3 linked regions of the Homo sapiens genome follow. The protein of the gene in region 1 interacts with the protein of each later gene in a pairwise test. Each region holds a gene or a part of one and is shown on either strand. Other genes may lie near its edges.

Region 1 (7,276 bases):
TGGATAGATTGAATTACTTTCCAACTGTTCTGGGTATGAGTTAAGTGTATATTTCACACTAACTTCGGGTACAAATACATCCCCACAGGAAAAACATAAAGTGTGCTAGAAATTCCTTCATTTCAGTGGTTTTTCATTAATGAAATAAAAAGATGAAAATGGTCCTGAATCAGATATGGGGGAATGCTTAATGACTCTGACCTATCTTTGTTTTCTCAGATAACATGAGACAGCTACAATATGATGGATCAGTACTAACTTCATTATTTTTTATTGTCATTTTGAGGCTTTCCAGAGCATCACTTTTTACTGGAATTCTAAGTAGTTCTTTACTCAGAATTCAAGCAGCAAACATTTAGGGACTCAGTGGTTCACTCAATTGTAGGAAATTGATTGTGAAATGATATTTGCCATTGCCACAAACTCATTAATAATTTTCATCCCAATTATGGAACAGTGGTAAAAGAAATATACATATATTAGAGAAAGTAAAACAAAAACAGAAGAGCAACAAGGTACCGATATTTTGTAACTTATAACACTATCATCCCTTTGTATGACAATCCCAAATTTCTCAGTCAAACACTGAATTATACAAAGTATAAATTAATTAAACTTAAATAAGATAAAAACAGAACAATGGTTATAAGTGAATCAGCATTCTTTAACATGTAATGAGAACAGTGAGATTTAGAGTTCAATTTTATCTATAACTGTCTCTTCCTCTAGCACATGGCATGGCAAATGATAATCAAACTGAAATTGTCATTATTTTCTTGAATGATGGCACATTAAATTACTGACATTAGGTAATATCAATTATGCATAAGGCTTATCCTATTTTATATGTAAGCATCTTTCTTGAACAAATGGTTAGTAACACTATGGAAGTAAAAGCAGTATTACTACATCTATACATAGTGAATCCATAGAGTCAATGCTTAATATCATCAAAGTGAAAATAACTAATGTAATATTATATACATTTAGTTCCATTGCAATATGCTTTTATCCTGAATAGTAAATAATAAAGTTATAAGTTCCAGCCCAGAAAGGGTTAAAACTTTTCTAAATAACCACAAGAAATCCAGTCTTTTGTTACTTCCCTTCCCCATCCCCCCAAATCTTCTGCCAATCTACTTCACAATTATAAAACTGAACTCAGAGAATGTAAGGTTAAGAAAAGACAAATGAAATAGAAGATAAAAAGGCCAATAAAATCGCAATAAAAATCCTGTATTTTAATGTACAGAAACTGAATCATGTAAAGATGAAATAAACCTTTGACTTCTCCAGGTGGAAAAAAGAAACAGTGACTACTACAGTATAAAGCAAGAGCTAAAGATAATCAGCTAAACTTGGTATCAGCTTTTCAGTTTTTCCTTCTATTCAAGTCTTTGTGAAAAAAAAATGCACCCACATTCCTGGACCATAATAACCCAAGGCCAGGGAGCAAAAGCAAAGTCATGAACTGAGAGAGTTCTTTAGCCAATGTAAAAACAATAAAAACAGTAGAAAATCATTTTTTAAAAGTAGACTGATAGTCCATGCTAGAACATATTTTCACTGGCACAGTCTCTAAAAATTCCTCCATATTAGAAAATCATTCAGGTTTCAAATGAAGAATTGGGAATAAATGTCATACCAAAATAAACCCAATAACCCAAATGGAAGGCTGGGAAAGAAATTCATTTATGAACATAATATCACAAATTGTCCCTATTGAATAGTTATGTCAAATGGCAAACATTTTCTATAACGTGGAAACACTTATCTACTCCCTATGTATTCTCTACTGATAAGGTCTTACAATCTTGAAAGTCAAGATCATAGTTATTTTACTCAGCTTAATAACAATTATCACACATCTGTAGATATCACTCCTCTTCACAACCTTCTATGAAATTTCATGATTTAAAAAATACGTGTAAGTAAAATTCTGACCTTTTTCCTTTGGAATATACTGAGATCTAAAAATAGTACTTTTTTACTCTATGAAGTACGTCTAATTTTATGTACTGAAACCAAAAACTTGGTGTGAGAAAAGGAAAACTGAACGGGAAAATTGGAGCCCTAATTCAAGTTTCCAGCAGCTTTTAGCTAATTGTGCAACCTATAATACTTCCCTCATCTCTCTGGGCTTTGGTTAGCTCAGCAGTGAAATGAAATGGGCTGAGCCAGTTCATTTTGAAACTCTCTTTAACCCTGCTACCATATGATTCTGTCTTTCACTAGCAACATATTTCAAGGATACAAGAAAAACATAGCAGAGAAAAACACCCATATGGTACGCCCTGTAATAAAATATACATTGCCAAACCCCAATAGACAAGTTGCTTTTTTTAACCAAGATCAAACCCCAATGTAACCAGAGATATATTTATCTTCTCCTAATAAAATATAGATTTACCTACAAATAAGAATCACCTACAAAATAGATGAAACCAACATGGGAAAAACAGACCCCTTTTTCTTTACTCAGTACATGCTGCAATTTACAGAAGTACCTGAAAATTTAAGAACTTCCTGAAGGTAAATTCTCCCTAACAGAAGACAGTTTCAGGGAGAGAGATACCAAGGAAGGGAGAGAAGCTGCAGAAATAAGCCACAATTGCCTGACTGCCATTCTCATTTTCCTTTTAAATTAACTACCTAGGAAATCTGTATTCAACAACCGGGCAAAAAATAAATGAATAAACAGTCCACCCCAGAGTATTCAAGGAATAACCGCAGTCATAAGTTCAGTAACTTGCTTACCAAATTCTTCCCGGCTGGTGGTGATCGGAGCCATTTTTTACTGCGTGTTCTGTCCGAGGTGCTGAAGGGAAAACTGCCTGGCTGGATTCACTTGCCTGGATCTCAAGCGCCGGCTTTCGGAGCGCTGAAAACAACAGCGCAGAGCCCAGGGCACCAGCTCCTGGAACAGGGAGGAGGCAAAGAGGGAGGTCCACTCGCCCTCGCACAGTGATTTGCCACCTCGGTTCCTGTTTTGGCTCTTCTGAGAAGCTCGTCTCCGAGACTCCAGACGTGGCTGGAACCCGAATTGACGCAATCCTGACGCTACAGGGCTGAAATCAGCACCTGCCCCCCTCCCCTCCTCCCTTCAAGCTTTCCTTCTTGCTTCCTCCCTCCTCTCTTGAGGATTCAACACATGCTCATCAATTATTTTAACTGTTGGACCACTAGAGATTAGCTTTGCTGTTTTGTGGGGGCTCAGAGGCTCACCGAGATAAGCCCCGAAACTGATCCCTGTCAGTTCCTAATATAAAATCTCCTGATCACCTAGATGAATAAAAATATGTTTCTGAGTTTTCAGAATAACGTAACTTACAGAGGAGAAGTTTCTGCTTCAAATTACTCTTTTTAACATGCAAAAACATGTTTTCTTGCTTTTTAATTTTTTTCTTTGACATGTTATACCTATGATACTTATTACATTTAGAAAAGATTCACTACAAATTGATGCATTTGATATAAGATAGTTTTCCCAGTATAATCCTTTATGTTCTAATAAATTATTAGTCTAAATATTTTGCTGGAACAGTTGATCTTTCCTGGTCTCTCAGCTCTCTTCCCTTTAATATCTGACATTTGACCAGTTAAAGCACTTAGGAACAGATGGGGATAATTCCTTGGATATTCAGAGTCACTCTCAGTTATGACTTTTGCAAATAATAAGGCGCTTCTGAAATGACATTTATGGTTAAAAGGCCTGACTTCTAGTACGTTTGTACAAAATAGTTTCCAAAATCAGGCCAACATCTAAAGTAACATTGGTAACATTGGTTATTTCAAAGGAAAGCATTCCTTTTTCTAAACTGATGATATTCTCGGAGGTGAAAAACTGTGAAAAATATGGTGTCGGATTCTGATTCATTGGAATCTGAAGAGTGTGCCTTTCTAAAACAAATGCTTAGCAATTTTTCAAAGGAAAGAAGTCAAGCTGTAACTCCAACTGTCAATTATTGCTCTGCAAAGAATTTCTTTGCTCTGGAGTTAATAAGGAAATGGCATTCAGTGTGTGCTGGGATGTGGGAGAAGGGATACAGGGTGAGTCTCAGAAAGCTACTGTGCAAGTGACAGGTCCCTGCACATTGGCTAGCAGCAGCCCAGAGCATCAGGGCTCTGTCTGGGGAGAAATTGGCTTCAGTTCTTTGCATCATGGAAAATTTTATAAACCAGTCTTTTTTCTTTGCTATTCTATTTGCTCCCACATACTTGGCATTGGAGTGTTCCTCTAACAGATTTTTTTAAACTTTATATCTTCATGCTTTGAAAACACACAAACTAATTTGCTGTATTTAATTTTTCTGCTGGCAGAGTCTGTGGTTGTGTCTTTATCATTTCACTTTATTCAGATTACCTATTTCCTTAATTATGCATGCATGCACCCTGTAGGGTTGTCCCTAGAAACAAATATCCATTAGGTTAAAGAATAAGTGGCATTTATTTGTGATGCATATCATAGGTGGACCAAATACATGGTGTGATGTTTACTAAAGTATATATTTTCTAGCTAAGTTATTGCTAACATATGTTTAAGCTCATTTGTTGTAAACATAAATACCTTATGTGTTTGTTCTATAAATTAGTATCTCATTAATTTTACCTTCAGATGGTATAATGTTGTTATCTGTAAACTGTACAGATTGTTTAAACTCTATTTCTACGGAACCCACCCCATCCTTTGCTGTCTGACATCTGAGGAAACATCGTGATAAGATTACCTCTTGCCCAGAGCTAATGCTATTGTGGACTAAGTAACTATTTCATTGCTTGCTTTATAAGCAAACTGAAAAGAACTGTTATTAATTAAAATGCCTGAAGTTTCCCTCATTTTCATTTGATGAATAACATTTTAGGTATTATTCAATCTCTTTAGACAAGCTTCTAGCAACACCAGATGAGGAGTGGGCAGTAGACAGACCCCACACAGAGAAAAACCTGTACGTTTTTATGATTGAGATTCACACCCTACCACATTACTGAATTATTCTTTTTAGATCCATCAAACAAGTAACCAATTTACTGACGTGCAAAATACCGCTCTAGCAGGGGAGACTTGGGAGGAGGAGTTGTTGCTAGGTAACCACTTTTTCACCACCCAAAACACACAGCCTCAAACAAGTTCTTGCTTTGGCAAACACAGACCATTCTGTGCAGGCGGCAGTATTTACTTCAGAATGATTTTTTCACTGTTAAAATGGTTCAACTTTCACATTACTTTCTTTTCCAATTGCAAATGTCTATACATAATTTGAGAAACAATTAATAGAACACTTGAATTTAGTTTTAAGAAATTCAGTTTAATCTGAAAGCTATTGATGACTAATTATATGTTTTTATTCTATTTTATAACGTAATTAAATTTAGTATATATTTTGATTTTTAAATTATTGTTTATGTTATTTATTAATTGTATAGTTCAGTCTATATTTTCTCTTTTCTTTGAAAAATATTATTGGTGAAAGTATTTAGAACCTCATGCTAAGAAAAATATAATTTCAAAAAGTTTTGAAAATGTTGCCATGATCTTCAGTAATCTTTAGTAATACCTACATTAGTAATAAAATATCACTTTACTAAAATATCATTTTACCTACTGGTATGTGGGTGGAGTAGACTGAAGTATCTGATGATGGGAAATGGATAATTGTTTCAATGTTCCATATTATTATATTATGAATGCTGACAATAATGCTAATGGAATAGATTTATATTACAAACACACCCAAGTAAAAATCTTGCAAGACAAATCCCTCTTCATTTGGTATCACAGAAATCCCTTTACTACATTTGTTTTTCTTCAACATATTCAGCATTTACTATGTGCATTTAATAGTTCATATATGACAGTGAAACCAAACCACCAAATAAATAAGTAAAGCTTATATTCTTCTTTTCTTTATTTTCTTTCAACACATATTAAACATGTATCACTAGATTTTTACTAAGTGAGTGATTTATATTTGTCAAAATGAGAAAAAATGATCTTTTTCTTCATGGAGCTTACAGACTATACAAGAAGTTGACAGCTTTTTTCTCTAGAACTAGACAAAGAAACTTATGAGATCATCGTTACATACATATTTATTTTGCCTTGTTCTTTCTACAAACTCCGGTCAGCACTATTCTACAGCCATCACACCTATCTTATTCAGTCTCTTCTTATTGACCTTTTCCCCCTCACTATGGATCCATTATGATTCTTACACAGATTGCATTTTTTCTTTCCCTGTATCTCTCTATAAATTCTTTATCCTTTAAGAATCAGTTGAAGTTTCATTTGTACTATGAAGTTTCTGACTTATCAGCACTCATGGATTTCTTCTGATTTAAATTCTTACAACACTATCTCTAGTGAAGTCTTTTAAGCCAGCTTGACATATCCTTGATCTACATACCAACAATCCCAAAAAGATAAACCAAAGGCCTTCACTAATGCTAACCCCAAATATTCCACAAGATTCTTAATTTTTTATCTTCTCTGCACTAATTTATTTTTAGGACTTCTATCTCCATTTTATTTTTACTTTTTAGGCCTGCCTTCACACTGCGGCCTTTGAATACACTTCTCAAATTCCTAAGTCTTGATATCTCAACAATAATTTGATCTAGAGCCATCCTAGAAGATTTTTCTCTTTCAGTTCATCTTGAATGTATTTCTTGCTAGCTCCTCTACCTCCTTTTCCAATCTATTCCTAAGTGAGACCTCTCTTAGCCTTCCATTATCACTAAAAAACTGGGATTGGGCAGAGCAGAAGTATACTAAATTATTCATTTCAGGTAATGGAGATGTAAAAAATGTTTTATTATTAGACAATATTTATTTTGAAAATATAAAGATAAACACTGGTAAAACTGGCATGGATTAAAGCTCAAAAATTACTGGATTATATATACTCTTACATAAAATAGACAGATATTAAAAAAACAGGAAGCAAGAGTAAGGTTAAAATGAATCATAAAAATGATACAAAAGAAAAACAAGCAGATAAATTGAGCAAAATCTAATCATCTAAGTAAGCATGGAAGATTGACAAATTCCAAGGTAAAAGATCTTACACTGAGTTAAAAAATAAAGTTTAACCATATGCTGCTCATAGTAAAAATACTTAAATAACAGAATGCACAATGATTTATTAAACATAGAGAAATGTAAAGGATTAAGTTAAAAAGTCAAGAATAAAACTTGCTAGGCTTTGTGGCACGCCTGTGATCCCAGTACTTTTGGAGGGCTGGGCATGCTGGCATGCCTGTGATCCCAGCATTTCGA
Region 2 (7,114 bases), on another chromosome or scaffold:
ACCCTGTCTTGAGAAAAAAGTTAAATCGACCCCCAATTCACAAATATTTCAGTCATAAGTGCTTAACAATTTAAGAGGATATGTTCCAGAAATCAGACCTAAAAGCTGGATACCTGGAGTTGAAAGGGAAGAGACCACCGATGCTGCTGCTAATGACAGGGAAAGGAGGAATCAAAGTTTGTGGGACAGAGTGCAGGAAGCTAAGCTGAGGGGTTTACATGGGAAAGAAGGGAAGACAGAATTTGTCCCAGCCTCTAAGACCTGGAGCTCACAAGACAGAGATGACCTTATTGGGGGAAAAGAAAATGAGAAGACAGCCACAGAACTGCAGCCCGGGGGTGGGGGGAAAAGTGATTATCTAGCTGCAGAGAAAAGGACAAGAGGAGGATGTTTCAGTGGAATAACTAAAACTAAAGCTAATGAGAAAAAATTTTTGTTGCTATGTAAACCTAAGAATATTTGCTAGCAGTAATTGATAGATATAGCTAGGTAACTGACTAAAAACCAGTCTGAATAGAGATAAAATATGATTACAGTTGCTATGTTTATGTCTAAAGATAATTGTATCATGATCAGCTTATACAATGAAGAATGCAGAAGGCTGTACAAGCTAGGTCAGTGTCTGTCTTACATCCTCTAAAGGAAGCTGGGGATTAGTGAAAGTGACCTGGACCAATAAACTGTAACCATTCATATGAGCACACGAGCGCTGAAGCCCTTATGAGACGATAGTGGTGAGCCAGGCTCCACTAACCACTCAGAGGAGGGATTAGCTGTTAAAGTCAAGGCTGTCACTTATCAAGGGGCTTTATGTGAGCTTACGGCACAGCTGAAATATTTAACTTTTACCTCACTGAGTCAGCTTAACTAAAGAAAAATTTTATTCAAAAAATTGCTGTCAAGACTCCGGAAGGTTAAAATGATATTTAAGGAACCATAGTCCCAAGCTTATGCCTATTCAGTTACTTAAGTGAGGAAGTGAAGAGCTCATGGAGAAATGGAAAATGCTCCAAAAAAGGAAAAGATAATTTTTATCACAATACACAAAATCTGAAAATATTTATCCTAGCAAGCCTACATGCAAGAATCAGGGAATTAATAAATAATAAACTATACCCATTATGGCAGTTTATAAAGAATTATAAGAAATAAGGAAATGTTTATAGTCTGCTAGGCAAATATAACCCTTGTTATTTTATTATTAAATAAGGGGTAAAAAAAAATCATATCTTTCAGATTGCCACACCAGAGAGTTTTACTTGCAAAACAGACTCTTGGGTCTTTTTTTTTTTTTTTTTTTTTGAGACAGAGTCTTGCTCTGTGGCGCAGGCTGGAGTGCAGTGGTGATATCTTGGCTCACTGCAACCTCTGCCTCCTGGGCTCAAGTGATTCTCCTGCCTCAGCCTCCCGAGTAGCTGGGATTACAGGCGCATGCCATCATGCCGGGCTAATTTTTTTATTTTTAGTAGAGACGGGGTTTCACCATGTTGTCCAGGCTGGTCTCGAACTCCTGGCCTCCAGTGATTTGCCCGCCTCGGCCTCCCAAAGTGCTGAGATTAAGGCTACCGCTCTGGTCCACAAGGAGCAGTAAAAAAAACCTACAATGAGATATTATCTCATCCCAGTTAAAATGGCTTTTATACAAAAGACAGGCAATAATAAATGCTGGGAGGATACGGAGAAAAGGGAACCCTCAAACACGTTGGTGGGAATGTAAGTTAGTACAACCATTATAGAGAACAGTTAGGAAGTTCCTCAAAAAACTAAAAATTGAGCTACCATATGATTCAGCAATGATGCTGCTGGGTATAACCTAAATGAAAGGAAATCAGTATATCGAAGAGACTTTTGCACTCCGATGTTTGTTGCAGCATTGTTCACAACAGCCAAAATTTGGAAGCAACCTAAGTGTCTGTCAACAGATGAATGAGTAAAGAAAATGTGATACTTAAATACAATGGGGTACTATTCAGCCATAAAAAAGAACAACATCCTGTCATTAGTAACAACATGGATGGAACTGGAGATCATTACGTTAAGTGAAATAAGCCAGGTACAGAAAGACAAACATTGCATGTTCTCATTTATTTGTGATACTTAAAACTCAAAACAATTGCACTCATGGAGATAGAGAGTAGAAGAATGATTACCAGAGGCTGGGAAGGGTAGTGGGGTTGGTTTGGGGATTAGGGGGAGGTGGGGATGGTTAATGGGTATAAAAAAAAATAGTCAGAAAGAATGAATAAGACCTAGTATTTGACAGCACAACACAGTGACTATAGTCTATAATAACTTAATTGTACATTTTAAAACAACTAAAAGAGTATAATTGGATTGTTTGTAACACAAAGGACAAATGCTTGAAGGGATGGGTACCCCATTTTCCATGATGTGATGATCACATATTGCATGCCTGTGTCAAAACATCTCACCCCATAATATATACACCTACTATGTACCCAAAAAATTAAAATTGTTTTTAAAATTGAAAAGTGTATGTCCTAAAACACTATAAACAGGATTAAAGACTAAAAGAAACAGGGGAAAATATTTGTAATATACAGAAAAAAGGTTCATCTATCATTACAAATCAGAAAAAGTCAAATATCCAATAGAAAACTGGACAAAAAACATCAAGAGATGTCAACAAAGAAAAAATTATAGTGGCAAACAATGAAGTTTAATCAAGGCAATGCACATTAAGGTATAATTTTTTACTTGCTAAATTAGCAAAGATTTTAAAAAATAAAACCCAGAATCAGTGAACTTAAAGAGAAATCAGTACTCATATACTATTCAATATATTTATCCTGAGAATATAAATTGGTATAGCCCTTCTAGAGGGCAATTTGGCAGCAGGTATCAAAAACTTATAAAACATGTATACTCCTGGTGGATCCATTTCCATTTAAGGAAATGAGGATATGAATACTCATGTACAAGGATATTTATCAGAGCTTTATTTATAACAGTGAAAGAATGGAAAGAACAAAACCAAAAATAAAGGGAATAGCTCATGGCATATCCATATGATGGAAGACTAAGGCATTATTAACATTTATGCTATAGATAATATTTTGGCCAGGTATGGTGCCTCACACCTGTAATCCTAGCACTTCTGGAGGCCAAGGTGGGAGGATCGCTTGAGGCCATGAGTTCGAGACCAGCCTGGGCAACATGAGACCCCATGTCTACAAAAAATGCAAAAATTAGCCAGGCATGGTGGCAGGCACCTGTAGTCCTAGCTACTTGGGAGGCTGAGGCAGGGATCACATGAGCCCAGGAGTTCAAGGCTGCAGAAAGCCATGATCGTGCCTGGACAGCGGGGGATCCCATTTCTAAAAAAAGAGAAGAGAGAGAGAGACAGAGAATATTTTATGACTTGAGAAAATGTTCACCATATATGTTTTAAAAGCGGGTTATTTGCCTAATTTATTTAATACTTATAGATAGCATTTATAAGTCATGGGCACTAATCTATACACTTTACAAATATTAACCTATTTGATCCTTATAACAACTCGTGATAAATATTATTATCCAAATATAGTAAGTGAGAAAACCAGGCTGCCAAAAGTTAAAATAACTTGCAAACCCAGGCTACTTCTTCAAAAAGCTCAATTACATTAATAACAAAAACAAAAGAATATATATGCATAGAAATCGAGGAGATAAGAATAAACAGTTGTCCCTAGTGTCTATGGGGGATTGATTCCAGGACACCCTGTGGATGCCAAAATCCACAAATGATCATTTGTGGATATGCAAATGTAGCATTTGCATATAATTTATGCACAACCTCCTGTATACTTTAAATCATCTCCAGGTTACTTATAATGCCTAATATGATGTCTGCATATGACTTCATTCATGTGGATTCAACATAATACTCGGCACACAGCAAATCCAAGTTTTGCTTTTTGGAACTTTGTGAACTTTTTTCTGATATAATTTCCATCTAATGTTGGTTTAATCCATGGATGCAGAACCCACAGATACTGAAGGTCAAATGTGTATCAAAATATTAATAGCAGTGGTTTCTACAAGTGGTGGGATAACAGGCTATTCTTATTTCTTTTGTTATTTTTTGAATTTTCTATAATGAACATGCTGAGCAGTTCCTCATTCACCAAGAGTAATACATAGTTTATTTCCACATTCCACATATGGAATTTTCCAACAAGGCATCTTTGTAAAATGTTAGAATCAATATTAAATGAAGCAATGAATACTCAGTGAAATGTGTTAAATAAAAGCTGAGTTTTAAAAATCAAAACAATCTTGTCTTCTGCTTATAATGAACACATTTTAACAGAGAAAGGGTATAAAGAAAAGTAACATTCTGTAACATAAGAGAAACTACCCAATTAATGCAGTTTGTAGTTTCTTAGAACACAGTCTCCTAATATTCTGATTTTTCTGGAGCAGAAAATAAACATTAGGAAGGACTTACTTTGAAGAAAATATTATCTGCCATTGACAGCTAGCAATTTATTTAGAGAAATAATATTTTAGAAGACTGTAACAGGCTAGGCACAGTGGCTGTCACATATAATCCCAGTGCTTTGGGAGGCCAAGGTTGGAGGATCACTTGAGGCCAGGAGTTTGACACCTTCTCTCTCAAAAACAAAAACATTAGCTGGGTGTGGTGGCATGCACCTATACTCCCAGCTACTCAGGAAGCTGAGGCAGAAGGATAGCTTGAGCCCAGGATTTTGAGGTTGCAGTGAGTTATGATCACGGCACTACACTTGGCCTAGGTGACAGAGCAAGACCTTGTGTCAAAAAAAAAAAACACCCCTCCGCCCCTGCCCCAAAAACCCCACAAAACTGTAACAAATGATTCAGTGGGTCAAAGTACTAAAAAGGACAGGTTGAAATTGCAATGTAATTCAGAGGTAAATCTAGTTTCAAATTCATTAGAAAGCTATAAAGGAGTAGCAGAAGATGCCATTTTTGGATCAGCTAAAGTGAAGAAAACTGATTATCATACCCAAAAAATAATGTTTGTTTCAAGTAAAATGTATATGTACATCCATTCATTCAACAAAAATCTATTGCAGAAATACTATGTGGTAGGCACTGTTCCAACATGGTATTTGGGGAAACATACAATAAATTAAATAATATAAAAAAAATGTTAAGCAGAGGTAGTTAAGTGCCATCAAGGAAAAAACCAGAGCAGGGGAAGAGTATGGAGTATGAGAGGGAACAGGGCTCTTATAGACTAGACCACCTGAAGAGCCACCAGATGGGCACTTGAATAAAGTGAAGGTGTGTGAGCCATGCCAAATCTGGGGAAACAGCTAGTGCAGAGACTGAGTTGGGAGTATGTTCACTGTTCAAGGAAAAGCAAGAAGGCCAATGTGGCCAAGTCAGAGTCAACAGGGCTGTGACTAGGACAGTGCATGCAGACTGTGATCACATAACGCCTCGCAGAGCATGGAAGGAGTTGGGGTTTTTACTCTCACTGTGATGGGAAGCCACTGGGTCATTCTGAGCAGAGACTTGATGTGTCTGATTTACATTTAAAAATATGCACTCTCATCACTTAGCATGTTGGGAACGCTAGTGCACTGCAAGAATGTTATCAAACCAGTTGGGAGGTGACTGTAGATGTCCAGGCAAGAGATAATTGTGCCTTGGACTAGGGTAACAGTCATAGAGGCAGTGATGAGATGTGGGATATATGGAGAAACGAAAGCAGGATGAACTTGCTAACAGACTGGACATTAGAGAATTAGACTGGGGGATGACACTGAAGTTTTGGGCTTGAGTAAACAAGAGTCATTTAAGTGCTTAGGAACATTTTGCTTGATAGGTTAATCTGCCTATGCACTGGGGATTTGAAGAATTGAAAAAACTCAAATATCAAATATGTTCAATTTATAAATGTGACTAAACTGCTTAAAGAGATGTATTAACTAAATTTGCAAATGGGTATTACTGTTTAGGACAATGTAATCCTTTCCATTAGAGTTTACCGAACATTCATCAAAGAACAAGAGAAAATGATTGTTCCTTATTTTTATGCAAAAAGTAATTCAATTTACTAATCTTTTTATCCTATTTATAAATTGAACCTCAAGAATGAAAAACAATTAGGTTTTTAAATTTGCAACTATAATAAATAGTATATTAATTTTAAATCCAAATTGCCCAACAATCCTTTCTAAATACAAAAGCCCCACAGAAACTAAAACACTCGAACTGACACAGTATTTAGTGAGACAGGAAAAATGTCTGTGACATATTAAGTGAGGGGAGGGAGAAGCAAGTCAGAAAATGTTGTATACATTATATGAGAAATGTGTAGGTATATGTTATTTATAATAATAAGCTTTCTTCTAAAGAAGGTGTGACCAATAAACTACAATCAGTTTTTCACACTGTGGTCTTTAAAAAACATTCCTCTGTGGAGTCCCAGCTACATGGGAGGCTGAGGCAGGGGGGATGCTTGAGCCCAGGAGTTCAAGGCTGTAGTGTGCTATGATTGCACCTGTGAATAGCTCCTGTACTCCATCCTCGGCAACAGAGCAAGACCCCACCTCTAAAACAAACACCCCCAAAACATTCTTTCTCTACCCAAAAGCAGACCCTCAAATAGTTGTTGAATCAGTGAATAAAATATTAACAGTATTGCTTCTGGGCCAAAGAATTGTTTCTACCTCATATTAATAATTCTCCAGATTTCCAAATTTTCTATAGCAATTGTATATTCTTATAATCAGAAAAAATCTTTTAATGGTGATTATAAGGATTGTTTTAATAACATGAAAAATTGCTTATAATATTGATGGAAAAAAGCAAGTAAAATGGAGTATGGTTATGAACACAACTACACAGAAAGGATTAAAAAGGGACGGGGTGAGGTGGCTTACACCTGTAATCCCAGCACTTTGGAAGGCTGAGGCAGGCGGATCACATGAGGCCAGGAGTTTGAGACCAGCCTGGCTAACATGGAGAAACCCCACCCCTATAAAAAAAAAAATACAAAAATTAGCTGGGTGTGGTCATGGGACCTGTAATCCCAGCTACCCAGGTGGCAGAGGCACAAGAATTGCTTGAACCTGGGAGGTGGAGGATGCAGTGAGCTGAGATCATGCCACTGCAC
Region 3 (7,114 bases), on another chromosome or scaffold:
TACTAGTCTCTCCCCATAACTAATGGAATTCAGGTTTGAGTTTCAGTCAATAAATATTTTAGGCCAGACGCAGTGGCTCATGCCTATAATCCCAGCACTTGGGAGGCCAAGGCCAGCAGATTGCTTGAGCCCAAGAGTTCCAGACCAGCCTGGGAAACATGGTGAAACCCTGTCTCTAAGAAAAATATAAAAAGTTAGCCGGGCGTGGTGACGTGTTTCTGTAGTTCCAGCTACTCGGGAGGCTGAGGTGGGAGGATCACTTAAGCCTGGGAGGTGAAGACTGCAGCAACCCCAGATTGTGCCACTGCACACCAGCCTGGATGACAGAGCACAACCTCATCTCAAAAAAAGAAAAAAAACCAACCCATAATAATATTTTTTAAATTATTTAAAAATGAGATTAAATAATCATTACCTTAAGCGCTTCTTCATATTCTCCTAAAAGAACAAAAAATATACACCATGATACTTCTTCACACACCCCAAAAGATTCTATTATTTTAAAATTATTTTTATTTTGTACACATCCATTCATTCATTCAAGAACCAAAGATTCCATAAGATTAAGGATAGCCAATCCTAAAGATGGACTGTACAACATGAGGAACATATTATAGTTAAATAATCGTAAATTATATTCATGATTTTTGCTAAATGAGTAGATTATGGCTGGTTTCTGGGGAGGGCTCAGGGCACCACAGGGCCACTATAATGAGATGATAGATATGTTAATTTGCTTCACTACAGTAACCATTGCCACATAACATTTTGGTCAACCATGTGTATGATGGTGATCCCATAAGATTATAATGCCACATTTTTACTGTACCTTTTCTATGTTTAGATATGCAAATACCATTGTGTTTCAACTGTCTATAGTATACAGCACAGTAACATGCTCTACAGGTTCGCAGCCTATAAGCAATAGGTTATACCATATATCCTAGGTGTGTACTAGGCTATACCATCTAGGTTTGTGTAAGTACACTCTATGATGTCCATATAATGACAAAATCACCTAATTGATGCATTTCTCAGTACAAATCTCTGTCATTAAGCGATGCATTACTGTATATGTATTTCATAACATCATGTTGTGCACCTTCAATATATACAATAAAAATTTGTTAAATGTACAGCTAATCCTGACTTTAAAGAATTCTTAGCTTATTATATATGAACAGCAACTATCTTTTTGCTGACAAACTCCCTTTTTGTTGCAAACAGCATCTACTGTAGATCAGTTCTTCCCCTTAAATCCCTCCTTCATCACTACTGGGAATCTTCCAGTTACAAAATCTCAACCCAGGTCCCTCACATTTACGCACTGAGAGTTCAATGTTAATACTATCATTTCACCTGATTAAATTAAGATTTTAGGGGCTATCGTGGGAAACTAATCTTCAACTATAACATGGTTCCTATGGGAAAATGCACTCCAAGCTCTGAACATCTGATAAATAAACTTTTGGAATACCACTTGTTTTATAAGTTGATATTAACATATATACCAAGTCAGAAACAAATGCAACACCATGGGAATACTTATATGTGTTGAACTGGGAGGCATATTAATTTCAGAGGACTGGCATCTTAAATATGAGAACCTCCCATTAAAGCTGTCCTTAGGGTCCATTCAAAGGCATCATCCTATATATAAAAAACTGCTATACAATAAAATCCCCTAGGTAACTAATGTCCATCAGTGCAATGTCACTCTAAAATTAATACTGCAATAAGGTTTGAGTATAAATAGAAATGCCTCAATGAGCAGATTAAGGTTTTTAAACAAGGCTGAACAGACTCTCTTAGGGACTCACCTTGACTGTTGATGGATACCTATAAAAGGAAAAAAAGCAACAGTGAATTATAAGTGTCTCATCAGTTGAGCATTTCTGTTACTAGGACCAGCCCCATAGGACAGACAAAAACTCAGGCCAAGCGTTCAGCTTTTCCATATCACTTGCTAGTCATGAATAACACTTAAGAAATTTTATTGCTTATCTACTGTGCCCTCCTTTATTTCAGATACATTAAAAGGCAGTGCAATATAACAGTTAGGAGCTTGAGTTCTACAGCCAGAGGGTATGGACTGAACGGCTACTTTACTACTTCCAAGTTTTTGTGCATTTGGACAAGTTATTTTCACCTCTCTGTGCCTCAGTTTCCTCATGAGTAAAATAGTGATGATAATAATGTACTCAATACATGGTACTGTGGCTAGTCTGACACACTGTAACCACTCAATAAAGCTTAGCCATTAGCCTGAGCAACAAAGTGAGATTCCATCCCTCCAAAGAATTAAAAAATTTTGCCAGATGCAGAGAGGTATGTCCTAGCTACCCAGAAGGCTGAGATGGGAGGATTCCTTGAACCCAGGAGCTCTAGGTTGCAGCAAGCTATGCCAATGCACACCAGCCTGGGCAACAGAGTGAGACCCTCTTTAAAAAAAAAAAAAAAAAAAGCTTAGCCATTATATTTGTATTATTATAAACTAAGTGGTAGCTTGTGCTATATGTGAACTTAAGGTCACTATATAATTTTAAAAGTTATCTTGGCCAGGTGTGGTAGCTCACAACTGTAATCCCAGCACTTTGGGAGTCCGAGGTGGGCTGATCGCTTGAGCCCAGGAGTTCGAGACCAGCTTGGCCAACATGGTGAAATACCGTCTCTACTAAAAATACAAAAATTAGCCAGGCGTGGTGGTATACACCTGTAATCCCAGCTACTCAGAAGGCTGAGACAGGAGAATCACTTGAACCCAGGAGCTGGAGGTTGCAGTGAGCAGAGATCGCACCACTGCACTCCAGCCTAGGTTATGGAGTGAGGCTTCATCTCACAAAAAAAAAAAAAGAAAAAAAAAAAAGGTTCTCTCAGGCCAGGCCAGGCATGGTGGGTGTCTCACACCTATAATCCCAGCACTTTGGGAGGCTGAGGTGGGAGGACTGCTTGGGCCCAGGAGTTCAAGACTGGCCTGAGCAACATAGTGAGACCCTGTTTCCTTTTTTTTTTTTTAAGTGAAAGTTATCTCTGAGATATTCTTCAGTGTTGCTTCTCCATTTCTCAACTCCATCTCAGATGCTGCAAGTCTTCTTAGAATATTCAGTTATCAAATATATTTAAACCACCACACAAATAAGCTAAACACTATTTTGAATTATTAAAGCCCATATCACTGGAGAAATAAGATCCCTATTCTGAACACCTAGCAATAAGTGCCATAATATATTTTACCTCTTCATTTTCCTCATCCAGGTATTTTATTTGAATAGTATTCAGATCAAATGAAACTTTTACCTATAAAAGAGATACATATTTAAAGGCAGGTTATAATGTACACAGAAGTCAAAGTAAAAAAAACCCACAAAATCAAAAGACAAACAACAAACAACCTTAATAACCCATAACAAAGGGTTAATATCTGCAACACACCCAGAGTACCAGCAAAACTGCTAATGATACAATTAACAACCCAGGTAAAAATATACATAAAATTCATACAAGAGGAAATCAGAACACCTAACAAATACATCAGAAGACTTTCAAACTTTCTGGTGGTCAGAACAATGCAAATTGAAGCAATGAGATGACATCTCATCAGAATACCAAACTGTGTGTGTGTGTGTGTGTGTGTGTGTGTGTGTGTGTGTGTGTGTGTGTTTTGGGTGGGGTGTGGGGTAGGGAACAGCAAATGTTTTTTAAAGCCATAACATCCAGTGTTGTCAAAACTTCAGGACACTGTCATGTATTTCTGTGTGCTGCTACAATTGTTCTGCAAAGCATTTGGCAGAATCTATTAAAATTTCAAATAAAATGCTTTGTGACCCATTAATCTCACATTTGTATAGGACAGAGTTTATCCTGTAGAACAGTGTATAAGTTATGTGTATAGATGGATATCTCCTGAAGTTTCAAGATAAGAAAAAAAAAAAACGAAAAATATCTTTTTTTTTTTTTTTTTGAGATGGGTCTCACTCTGTCGCTCAGGCTGGATTATAGTGGCTTGATCTTGGCTCACTGCAGCCTCAACCTCCAGCACTCAAGCAATTCGCCCACCTCAACCTCCGGAGTAGCTGGAACCACAGGTGCCTGCTACCAGGCCCAGCTAATTTTTGTATTTTTTTGGTAGAGATGGGGTTTTACCATGTTGCCCAGTCTGGTCTCAAACTCCTGAGCTGAAGTGGTCCACCCATCTTGGCCTCCCAAAGTGCTGGGATTCTAGGCGTGTGCCACTGTGCCTGGCCAAATAATGTTTATAGTATGATCCTAGTATGATATCTGCATGAACATGGAAAATTTAAAGTACATACAGGGCTGTTAACATTGGTTACCCAAAGAAGGTGGGAGTAACAGATGAGGGGGGGGAGAATGGAGGGCTATTAACTGCTTGAGATGGTTTCTCTTCTTAAAATGGGCATGTATTATACTTATACAATTTAAAATTTACAAGGAAGAAAAAAGGCAAGCTGTCAGCTCATTTAACTACTAGGAAAAGAAAGATAACTGATTTTCACATCTTTTGGCAAACAAGATCTAACTTCTTTCTGAATCCAATCTTTTTTTTTTTTTTGAGACGGGTCTCACTGTCACTGATAGGACAGTATGAACAGGTATTTGCTGGAAGGCAGACAACTACCTCAGATCATCTTTTAAGATCTACCATTTCTTTCCCTTTTTAGTTATCATCAGATATAACCAGGTAAACGTAGATTTTTACCAAAGGGTTTCAGAGAGAAACACAGTCAACACAGGAAGTAAAACATTCACCACTGCAAACTGAACAAAAACAGAAGAGTACAAAGGGCAAACCAAGAGGAGGAAAAGCCTTAGCAAAAAAACGGAACAGGTGAACTGCTGTCTAAGCAGGTATGAAAGTTTTTCCTGCTCAACTCTGAGATACTCAACCTCTGACCTAGCAATAAAAACAATTGATAGGCTCTTGCAAAACACAAGTTATATCCTTGTGCAAAACACAAGTCATATCCTCACACAAGAGAACATTTCCTTGGGATCTGGTTGGGTGGAGTCCACACCAATTCACTCCTCATACTGGTTCTAAAATTAATAGGTTTTCTAAATCCTATCTCACTAAAAACAATTTTACCTTCCCTTTCTAAAATGTTCAAAAGGAAATTTATGTGTTGGTTCCCTTTATTGGGGCACATCTCATATATGAATACTGAAACCCTATCAAAAGCAATTTTCCAAAAGGCCCAGAAATGGTAACTATGACAGACTTCACAGCTATGAAACAACACTGCTAAAAATAGCTACCTTTGGAAAAAATAACCATGCTTAAACCAAGGAGAAACAAAATAAAGTAACACTCACCATAGCTTCGATATCAGCCCAAGTTGTATTTTCTGGATCAGAAACCAGAAAGCTTTGAATTTCATTTTTAAAAGTCACATTTAGAGTAACCTGTGGTTCCATGCTGTGAGGCTAGGGTTGAGAAGGTTGGTGGGAGAGAGAGAAAAACACATTAGAAAGGGTTCTATAAGTTGCACTAAAAGTTCACTCAGCAAATACTTGTGAGGACCCAATATGGGCTGGGCTTGGGAGACAGCAATGAACAAAAGAAACACTGTCCCTGTTCTTACGAAACTTACCATCACTGTTAAATAGGAATTGTTTCAGGAAAGAAAGATAGGCTAAAACCATGCCATAAAGACTTGTACTTAAGTCACAAAAATTATTCTTGAAGTTATTAGGAACTTCCACATGTTGGAAACATGTGGAAACAGAAGTATGCTGAAAGTATTTAAATTTTGACCACATTCCCAGAAATCATCTAGCATTTGTAAAATCCTTACGGTACTTTATGATGACTGGTTAACTAAACAAATACTTACTAGTAGCAGGACATACCAACATGGATAAGAGAGATAAGGTCTCTGCCCTCAGGGAACTTGTATTCTTGTATGACTTGAGAGTGACATTCTACATTTTTCTTGCAGAAGGAGGGTTGTCCTAACTTGAGAACCTAGGTTTTCTACCAGTTTTACGAACTTACAGGCCAAAACACTAGCCAAGAAACTACACAGAGGTAGCATTCAATGCCCTCCATCCAAGTTACTATGTTTTTTCACAATCTACTGATTTTTTATTTTATTTTATTTATTTATTTATTTTTGAGACGGAGTCTCGCTCTATCGCCCCAGGCTGGGGTGCAGTGGCACGATCTCAGCTCACTGCAACCTCCACCTCCTGGGTTCACGCCATTCTCCTGCCTCAGCCTCTCGAGTAGCTGGGGTGCCCGCCACCACATCCGGCTAATTTTTTTTTTTTTTTTTGTATTTTTGGTAGGGACGGGGTTTCACCGTGTTAGGCAAAATGGTCTCGATCTCCTGACCTCATGATCTGCCTGCCTTGGCCTTCCAAAATGCTGGGATTACAGGCATGAGCCACCGCACCTGGCCTTGTACTGATTTTTTAAATGGGGGATTTCAAACATATATAAAAGTGGAGAGTAATAAACACTTAGTTAAACCAACAATCAACTCAAGGCTATCCTCATTCACATATACCCCCGCATCTCCCACTTCTGCCCCAACAATGAACTGACCATAGTCAACTAATGTTTTAACCAAACTATAATAATATAATTATTTTATATTATTGTATTTATTTATTTTGAGATAGAGTCTTGTTCTGTCGTCCAGGCTCAAGTGCAGTGGCACAATCTTGGCTCACTGCAACCTCCACCTTCTGGTTTCAAGCGATTCTCTCACCTCAGCCTCCTGAGTAGCTGGGACTACAGGCGCCCGCCACCACGCCTGGCTAATTTTTTTGTATTTTTAGTAGAGACGGGGTTTCACCGTGATAGCCAGGATGGTCTCGATCTCCTGACCTCGTGATTCCACCCACCTCGGCCTCCCAAAGTGCTGGGATTACAGGCGTGAGCCACCATGCCCGGACTATTTTTTAAAATATTTTTATGGGAAAATTTAAATCTATACAAAAGTAGAGAGAATATAATGAATCCCTATGGACCCATAAGCTAGCTTCTTTCATAATTATCAACTCAGGACCAATTTGCTGTAACCAAAGGTTTACAGCAATACCCTTTCCCTACTAGATTATTTTGACAGACATCTATGCTTTTATCCATTAA

Evidence for each region.
Region 2: the proteins of SYT4 (region 1) and NDUFA12 interact in binary tests that used the Homo sapiens proteins (3 or more experiments, as listed by UniProt).
Region 3: the proteins of SYT4 (region 1) and NBR1 interact in binary tests that used the Homo sapiens proteins (3 or more experiments, as listed by UniProt).

What each region holds. Positions count from the first base shown.
Region 1 is NC_000018.10:43,274,491-43,281,766, forward strand, and holds the start of SYT4 (synaptotagmin-4), read right to left. Parts: upstream 3,001-7,276; 5' UTR 2,792-3,000; coding exon 2,758-2,791; intron 1-2,757. UniProt on the Homo sapiens protein: Synaptotagmin family member which does not bind Ca(2+). Involved in neuronal dense core vesicles (DCVs) mobility through its interaction with KIF1A.
Region 2 is NC_000012.12:94,972,688-94,979,801, forward strand, and holds part of NDUFA12 (NADH dehydrogenase [ubiquinone] 1 alpha subcomplex subunit 12), read right to left. Parts: intron 1-7,114. UniProt on the Homo sapiens protein: Accessory subunit of the mitochondrial membrane respiratory chain NADH dehydrogenase (Complex I), that is believed not to be involved in catalysis. Complex I functions in the transfer of electrons from NADH to the respiratory chain.
Region 3 is NC_000017.11:43,174,119-43,181,232, reverse strand, and holds part of NBR1 (next to BRCA1 gene 1 protein), read right to left. Parts: intron 5,443-7,114; 5' UTR 5,434-5,442; coding exon 5,332-5,433; intron 3,298-5,331; coding exon 3,235-3,297; intron 1,840-3,234; coding exon 1,821-1,839; intron 439-1,820; coding exon 416-438; intron 1-415. UniProt on the Homo sapiens protein: Ubiquitin-binding autophagy adapter that participates in different processes including host defense or intracellular homeostasis.